Homo sapiens: one gene and its partner. The protein of the gene in region 1 interacts with the protein of each later gene in a pairwise test. Each region holds a gene or a part of one and is shown on either strand. Other genes may lie near its edges.

Region 1 (3,803 bases):
GATATAGTCAGGGGTGCCGCAGAAGGTGCTGGCCCGGCTCTCCCCGAATATGTTCTCTTTGCACATCCCAAAGTCGGCAATCTTGATGTGGCCATCCCGGTCCAGCAGCACATTGTCCAGTTTGAGGTCCCTAAGGACAGGGGACAGGTAAGAGTCAGCAGGGGACATTTCTTCTCCTTCCAACCCTGCCCCCCATGTCCTAATTTTCAGCCGTATTAGTCCAGGACTGTCCCCAAGGGTACAAGGGAATGAGAAACAGAAAAGGAAGCAGAAGGAGAAAGAGATCCTAAAAACAGGTGCTTCTTGCAAGTCCCCTACTGTGTGCTAAACGCTGGGCATACACTGCCCTACTTCCTGAAGCCCAAATGGGGCTCAAACAGGTGATGTCACTCGCCCAGGGTCCCCTAGCAGTCAGCAGCAGAAGTGACCCCCAGGTTCAGGTTTGTCTACTTCCCACAGGCAGAGACCATGTCTATATTTAGTAATTAGTCATTTGAGTATATACTTAATGCATATGGGAACTAGAAATGGCAAACAGTACAAAGTCTACCTTCCACTGAGCTCAATCATGAGGCTCTCCTTAGAGCAATTCTAGGCGTGGACAAGCATATGGCAGCATGCAGCTCGCTCCCACCTTTTTTTTTTTTTTTTTTTTTTTTTTTGAGACACAGTCTCATTCTGTCACACAGGCTGGAGTGCAGTGGCATGATCTCAGCTCACTGCAACCTCCGCCTCCCGGGTTCAAGCAATTCTCCTGCCTCAGCCTCCTGAGTAGCTGAGATTACAGGCATCCACCACCATGCCCAGCTAACTTTTGTATTTTTTAGTAGAGACAGGGTTTCACCATGTTGGTCAGGCTGGTCTCGAACTCCTGACCTCGGGTGATCTGCCCACCTTGGCCTCCCAAAGTGCTGGGATTACAGGCGTGAGCCATCGCGCTCAGTCTCCCTCCCACGTTTTAAAGGCTGAATGCTAATATTCGATATACACTTTCCCACAGGTTGTTTTTCCACTTAACAACATATCTTGGCATTATCCCACATCAGTATACAGAGCCTGACCTCAGCCTTTTTGGTGGGTGTACAGTTCCCACCATAGGATGGAATCATAACTTATTAGATGAGACTTTATGGAAGGAGTCCCTTCTGGCAGAAGCTTAGATGACTCGATGGGGCTTCAGAGCGAGACTGACGGCTCCAAGGATGGGTGGGGCGATGGTGTCAAATATGAGCAGTGAGTTCCTAGTTCCTGAAGCTGAGCCAGCCTCAAATGGTGGCCACAGGAATGCTAACACCAGGGTGGGAGGCATAGGCAAATACCCAGCTAAAGATTGATTTCCAGCAGAGAAGGAACTGGAGTTGGGGGGATCCTGCTTGGAGCATTTCAGAAGATATGATGGGGCTGGAGCCTCCCCTCCCAAGAGCCCCCGCTGCCCTCACCCCCGCACCTGTAAATGATGCCCTTGCTGTGTAGAAACTGCAGTCCACACATTATCTCAGCGGCATAAAACCTGGGCAAGAGAGAGGGATAAAGTGTTCCGGGATCTCTGCCGAGCAGCCTCTGCTTCTCCTCGGGCCCTCAACCCCACTTCCAGGAGCAAGAAATGCTGCAAATAACTCCATGGACCACCTGAGCATGATCAAGTACATCTTGTATCAGGCAAGTGGGGGCTGGCAGCCCAGGCAGAAAGTTCTGAAGGGAAAGCTCTCAGTGAGCCAATTCTCTAAGAGTGTATGCATTTACATGCATGTACATATGTGTTTGCATGCATGCACACACACACACACACATACACGGTTAGTTTGGGGTAAGGGGCATGTGAATGGGGAGAAGCAGGTCTGGGGGCCACGCACCAGGGTCCTGTGTCCTGTGTCATGCAGGACCACCATTTGCAAGGCTGCCCTGGCTGTGGCCCACGGAGCGGCCAGGACCCAGAGTATTTGCGCTGCGCACCCAGCCGCAGTTCACTTGCCACCCATGGCTTCCTGTGTGGTGCCGACCCAGGCTACCCCCACATCTCCCCAGTTGCCGCTCTAGCCCAGGCTGGCTTTTCTAGGGAGAGGGAAGAAGGCATGGAGGGCAGACTGGAAGTGGGCTCTGAGCCAGTAGCCCTTCCTCCACACTGGGCCCTTCCCCACCATGGCCCTTACGTACGTGGCACGGTAGAGTTCAAAGCGGCCTTTGTCCTGGATGTGGTACATCAGGTCCCCCCCGTTGAGGAACTCCATCACAAAGAACAGGTGGTCCTGGGGTGGGAAGGGTGGTGAGCAGGGGTGAGGAATAGGCAGGAGGCTCCCTCACTGAGGGCCACTGGGGCCAAGCCCCAACAGGAAACAGCAGGGACAGGCCCTGGCTGAGGTGGACGACTCTGCCCTGGGAGGCATGAGGGGGGAAAGCATGGCCCTGCCTTAAGTGGCCTGAAGGGGAGACACAGCCCTGACTGAGGGGGGCTGAGGAGCTGTGGGACATGGCTGTGGCATGGGGTGGTGACGGCAGGAGGCCCGGGCACCTTGGTCTGGAAGGTGCAGATGAGGTGGGTGAGAAAGGGATTCTCTGCGGCAAGTGTCAGCACCCGCTTCTCAACCATGGTGCACTCCACGTCGTCGTCGATCAGGACCACATCCTTCTTGAGGGCCTTGATGGCAAAGTACTCTCCTCTGCCCTTCAGCTCTCCAAGCAGCACCTGATGGGGAGACACGGGTGCTGAGCAGGTGAGGACGGGGCAGGGGCCACAGCCCGATTCACAGACTCCCACCTCAGCCACCTAAGCGGGAAGAAGCCAGGGTGGGGTGGGAAGCAGGTGCCCGGCTCACAGCCCTCACCTTCCCGAAGCTGCCTTTGCCCAGGACCTTGTGGAAGATGAAGTTGTTGATGTTGCACTTGCTGCTGCCCTCCCAGATCTTGCCGTAGGTCCCACTGTTGTCTGCCCGAGAGATGGCACCTCCTCAGATCGGGGTCTCAGTCTACACAACTCCCCTCCCCCGGGGCCTGGGGTAGGCTGGGGGAAGGGGCCTCAGAGAGGAAGGGGCTCGCTCCCCAGGACCGGTGGTTCCTTCCATGTCTCACTTGACAATGGAAGGGAGGACAGTCCCCTTTCTTTGGCCTCAGGGGGAATAAAAACCGTAATGGGGCAATGGACCCAGCTTCACCTTGCATGTCCTCCCCAGCAACTCCGGTCTTCTTCTCGAAACCCTGATATATCCCAACAGGCTCTGAGGAGGCTGAGTCTGATCTCCGGGAGGCTCTCTGGGGAGGGAGCAGAGGTGGGGGGCCAGATGGTCAGACCATTATCAGAACTCCCAGCCCAGAAGGAAGACTCCCAGGTATAACTCCACCCTTAACACCAAGAGGAGACAACAGGGGCACAGCCCAGGCCCCCTACTCGGGCTGCGTGTACACACACGCACTCTTCCAGGAGCCCAGAGAAGCCTTGGTGGTCTGAAAGGCTCTGATTACAAACAGAAGTTTTGTAAACGGAACCCTACCTTCCCAACCACTCACTCGATAGATTTTATTTGACTATTTAGCTTCATTTCTGATTGATTCTAAAATTTTACCTTTAGGTTTTGTGGCATCCCTCAAGCCCCCCCCACATACAAACGTCCACACCCAAAGTCTTAGTTCAAAGTGTTCCAACACCCACTCCTGTGGTCCCCAGGTTCACCCTCAAGTAAAGAACTGCCTGAATAATGAATTTCTTATGAAAAAAAGCCCCCCTCCCTCTGCTGCCTAAATTCTTGAGTTGCATCTTCCCGAAGTAGAGTCCTGGGTCTAAATATATCCTGGCTGTCTGTGGCTCCCCA
Region 2 (4,599 bases), on another chromosome or scaffold:
CAACTACTTGTCAGGCTGAGGCAGGAGAATCACTTAAACCCGAGATTTGGAGGTTGCAGTGAGCCAAGATCATGCCACTGCACTCCAGCCTGGGCGACAGAGCGAGACTCTGTCTCAAATAAACAAAAAGAAAGAAAGAAAGAAAAGACAGGGCAGAGGTGAAGGAAGGCAAGGTGCCCAGATGGGTGTGTCATACTCACTGGGTGCTGCTCCTCATAATAAGCCGCCACTGTCTCCAGGTAGCCCTCTTTGAAGTCGTCCTGGGGAGAGGAGGGCACAGGGGGTTCATGCTGCTCCTGCCTGCCCCCTTCCCACTGTGGCCCCCACTGGTCCAGGTGATTCCCAAGGGGACCCGGGGCCCAGACCCAGTGTCCTGTGGAGCCTAAGACCCAGGGACTAAGCTTGGTGGAGGGGGAGGCCACGGCTCACCTCCAGCTCTGCCAGGCTCGACATCACCTGTTAGGAACAAAGCACTCGGTTCCAGGCCCAAGCCTCCTCTGCACCCCACATCAGTCAGTCCTCAAGCCCAGTGAGTCCTCAGCTCCCACACACCCCGAACTGGGCCCAGCCAGGGGCCCGGGCCACGTCTGGCACCCCTGTTGTTTCCTCAAGGAGCCCTGGGGCTTGGATGCCTCCCTCAGTCTCCCCGGGCGTCCAGATCCCCCACCCGCCCACTCACTGCCACCCAGGTGCAAGCATTTGCCCACGGTAAGGGGTGAGGGAGCCTGTGGGTCCCTCTTCATCCTTCTCACCCTGAGCCCCACACAGGGTGGAGTGCCTGGGGGCGGGGACATGTGACCTGGTGCCTGAGGGGAAATCCACCCACCTGTCCACGTCCTGATTCTGCATTTTGCATTTTATCATAAAATCTTTCTATGGCCTGGTGCTGTGAAGAGAGGCAGAGTTGGCACCAAAGGGCCGGATCCTTGTCCCTCCAGGGTCCCAGGTGTCCCACAGTGTCCTCAGTGTCACACGCTGAGACCCAGGCCCCCAACCCCTGAGCAGAAGTAGGGAGGAGCATTACCATTCGGGCCTTCAGCTTCTTCATGTCATCAGAGAGGACCTGCGGAAATAACGGTGACACTCAGTCTCCATGTGTCACCTTAACCTTTCCTCCAGGATAATTTATACACACACACACACACACACACACACACACACACACACAGAGACACATGGCAGAGGTACAGGATAAGAGGAGACAGCAGTCCCAGGAGCCCCTCACAGCCTGGAAAGACCGGCCAGGGCTGTCCTCGAAACGACTCAGAAAGCGCTTCTCTCAGGAGCCGGCTCAGCTGGGCAGGCCCAAGAGCAGGGCCAGCATGGGCCTAGGTGACCCCTCCTCACAAGAGCAGGGCCTGCGTGGGCCTAGGTGACCCCTCCTCACAAGAGCAGGGCCTGCGTGGGCCTAGGTGACCCCTCCTCACAAGAGCAGGGCCTGCGTGGGCCTAGGTGACCCCTCCTCACAAGAGCAGGGCCTGCGTGGGCCTAGGTGACCCCTCCTCACAAGAGCAGGGCCTGCGTGGGCCGGGGTGTCCTCCCTGCACACACACACCCCCCCATGTACACACACGGGAGGATGGACACTGTCCTGGAGCAGGCTGGCTCAGCTGGGTTTCCCACAACCACTATGGTCCCAGGTGAGAGTTGGCCAAGGAAAAAATGTTTAGGGACATGACAATTGAGAAGGTAACAGCAGCCATTCCTCTCTGATGAGCTGATTAATATTTGGGGTGCCAGGTAGGTCCACCCTACAACCTGCCACTCTTCCCGACTGCCAACATGCAGACCCACAGGTCCCGGGCCATTCCTGCCTGCAGACACGTGGCTGCATCCACAGAGGCCAGAGGCACCCCACAGAATCCCCGCTGAGCCCCCACGTCAAGGGCCTAGTCTCGGGGGTGACATGCCTGGTTTCCCCCACTATAGAGTGGTGACAGTCACCCACAGAGTGCGCAGGGCCTGGGGACATATTCTGGGCAGGGCAGCTGTCTGCACACTTTCAGGCAGCGATGGTCCCATCCCGCTAGCCTGATTTCCCAGGAACCAGGGTGAAAGCAGCACCGTGCCGACATGCGGGAGCCATGTGTCCTCCGGGTCACTGTCCTGAACCTGAGCCAGGCCACATCATGGAAACCCCTATTGTCACAGGCCGAAGAGCTCCCTGGAGGGTGTGGTGGGCCTAGCATTTGCGGTGGGGCAGTGGTAGAGGATGGGAGGTCGGAGGGAACCCAGGAAAGGAGGAAGAGACACCAGGACCCACACAGGCCTTGCTCTTGGGCCCACCCAGCTGAGCCGGCCTCTGAGAGAAGCATTCTCCGAGTCGTTTCCAGCAGAGCCCTGCCCCACCCCTGCCCCGGGCTTTCCGGGCTGTGAAGGGCTCCTGGGACAGGTGCTCCCTCTCATCCACACCCCTGCCGTTCTCCAGCGCCCCCGACACATATGACCTCCAGCGCCTCCACTGACACTCTCACCCCATCACTATCCTCCTGCCGCTGGGTGCCCCTGACTGAGCCCTGACACACAGGCACCTCGGGAAATACTGAGGGCACCCGCACCCTTACGGTCTGTTTTCAGACATGCCCACAAAAGCACACGCAGCCTCTCACTCACCTTCGGGAAGCACATGGCGGCCAAAAGTTCAAGGAGCCAAGGCCTGCTGGCGAGGAACAGGTGTGAGGAAAAGAAAGTGTCTCAGAGAAGCACCCTCCTCCCCAGAGGGTCCTCACCTTCGGGGACCCCAACTCCCCACCTGAGATGACCCAGCTCCACTGAGACAGTCACCTTCTGCACGCAGTCTTCCTGGCACAAATACTCAGCTGGTTTTATGGGGAAAGTGGGGGGTAGTGGGCGGAGCCTCTCTCAGGGCAGGAGGCCTTGCTGAGTGCGTGAAAAACAGACAGAGACAGAGACAGAGACAGAGACAGACAGAGATGGAGACTTACCCGAGAGAGACAGAGGTCTGGGGTCCCTGGGAGGAATGAGGGTCCGTCCCTGGCTGGGCCCCTGCTCCCTCTGAGCTGGGGTGGGAGTCTCTGAGCCCAGGAATGGGCTGCTTTCCCCACCCCACCAGCCTGAGAGTGGGGAGGGGCAGAGGGAAAGTCCAGACTCGGGACAGCTGGCTGGGGAAACTCCCTGAGTACAGGAAGGTGACGTCAGCCAAGTGGGATCCAAGGACAAAGGAATTTGGACCCTGTCCTTGCATGAGGTGTGCCCCGGCTCCAGAGGCCAGAGAAACTTCTGGATCAGAAGGAGGCAGGAACTGCCGGACCTAAGAGGGGCGCCGTGAGGGCAGGGGCCTGTGCACGTTGGAGGGGTGGCTAGTGGTGATGTAGATCTACCTGTGGGACAAGATAGGACCCTCTGCAGGGTGGAAGGCATCCTGCCGGCTGTCTGAGCTTGGCTGACCAGGTCCTTCTGACCCTTCTGGGCCAAGGCAAGGCCATCTGGGGCCGAAGGTCACTGGTCTCAGCAATCTTGGGGCTCCCCTACGGGCTCTTCTAGCTCCACGGGTTCTGACCCTCCAGCCTGGCTGGGCCTCCCACCTCCTCCTCACGGCCCCCAGCCCCCTTCCCCCAGCTGAGCACAACCACGCCCTTGCCTTTGGGATGGTTTCCTGGGGCCAAACTAAGGAAGTACCACGACAAGGGGCCCTAAGTCGAAGACGTCTCTTCCCTCACGATCTGCAGGCTGGAGGTCCAAGGTCAATGTGGGCAGCGTGGGGTCCTTCTGAGGGCCCGGAGCTGGGATTCTGTTCAGGTTTCTCCTGCCCTTGTAGATGGCCATCTTCATCTTCATCACGTTCTGCCTGGGTGTGACTGTCCCCCTTTCCCCTTTCCAAAGGACACCAGTCATATTGAAATAGGGTCCACCCTAGGCCGGGCGCAGTGGGTCACGCCTGTAATCCCAACACTTTGGGAGGCCGAGGCGGGCAGATCACCTAAGGTCAGGAGTTCTAGACCAGCCTGGCCAACATGGTGAAACCTTGTCTCTACTAAAAATACAAAAATTAGCCTTGCGTGGTGGCCGGCACCTGTATTCCCAGCTACTCGGGAGGCTGAGGCAGGAGAATCACTTGAACCCGGGAGGCGAATGTTGCAGTGAGCTGAGATGGTGCCACTGCACTCCAGTCTGGGGGACAACAATGAAAATTCCCCTCGGAAAAAAAAAAAAAAGAAGTAGGATCCACCCCAGTGACCTCATTGTACCTTAAGTACCTCCATAAAGACCCTGTTTCCAAATAAGGGCATATTCTGAGGTCCTGGGGCTTAGGAATTCAGCATGGATGCAATGTATCCCATTATATTCTCAAAGGGGACTCGGAGAGACAGAACCTATAAAACACGCTCCATGGAGAAATCTTCCCTTGGGTGAAGTAGACAACGGTTGTCACCTGCCTGCCACTTAGGAGTCCATTCCACTGTGCGCAACCGCCTTTCCACATACAGGATGTCCAGATCTTTCCCTGAGTATCCTCTGAATTGTAGTGGGAGACAGAAGGAAGCCACTCCTGCACCAGCTAAAAGTCATGCTTTAGGCTTCAGCTCCAACCCTAGCCCCTCATGACTCTCAAAGGCCACCATCTGAAGACATCTTGGG

What was found.
Region 2: the proteins of PRKCD (region 1) and IL32 interact in binary tests that used the Homo sapiens proteins (3 or more experiments, as listed by UniProt).

The regions. Positions count from the first base shown.
Region 1 is NC_000003.12:53,185,047-53,188,849, reverse strand, and holds part of PRKCD (protein kinase C delta type), read right to left. Parts: intron 3,247-3,803; coding exon 3,150-3,246; intron 2,924-3,149; coding exon 2,823-2,923; intron 2,684-2,822; coding exon 2,510-2,683; intron 2,247-2,509; coding exon 2,155-2,246; intron 1,511-2,154; coding exon 1,448-1,510; intron 131-1,447; coding exon 1-130.
Region 2 is NC_000016.10:3,063,841-3,068,439, reverse strand, and holds the start of IL32 (interleukin-32), read right to left. Parts: upstream 2,801-4,599; 5' UTR 2,753-2,800; exon of another isoform or gene 2,657-2,752; 5' UTR 2,629-2,656; coding exon 2,614-2,628; intron 1,064-2,613; coding exon 1,025-1,063; coding exon of another isoform or gene 887-1,024; coding exon 827-886; intron 457-826; coding exon 430-456; intron 261-429; coding exon 201-260; intron 1-200.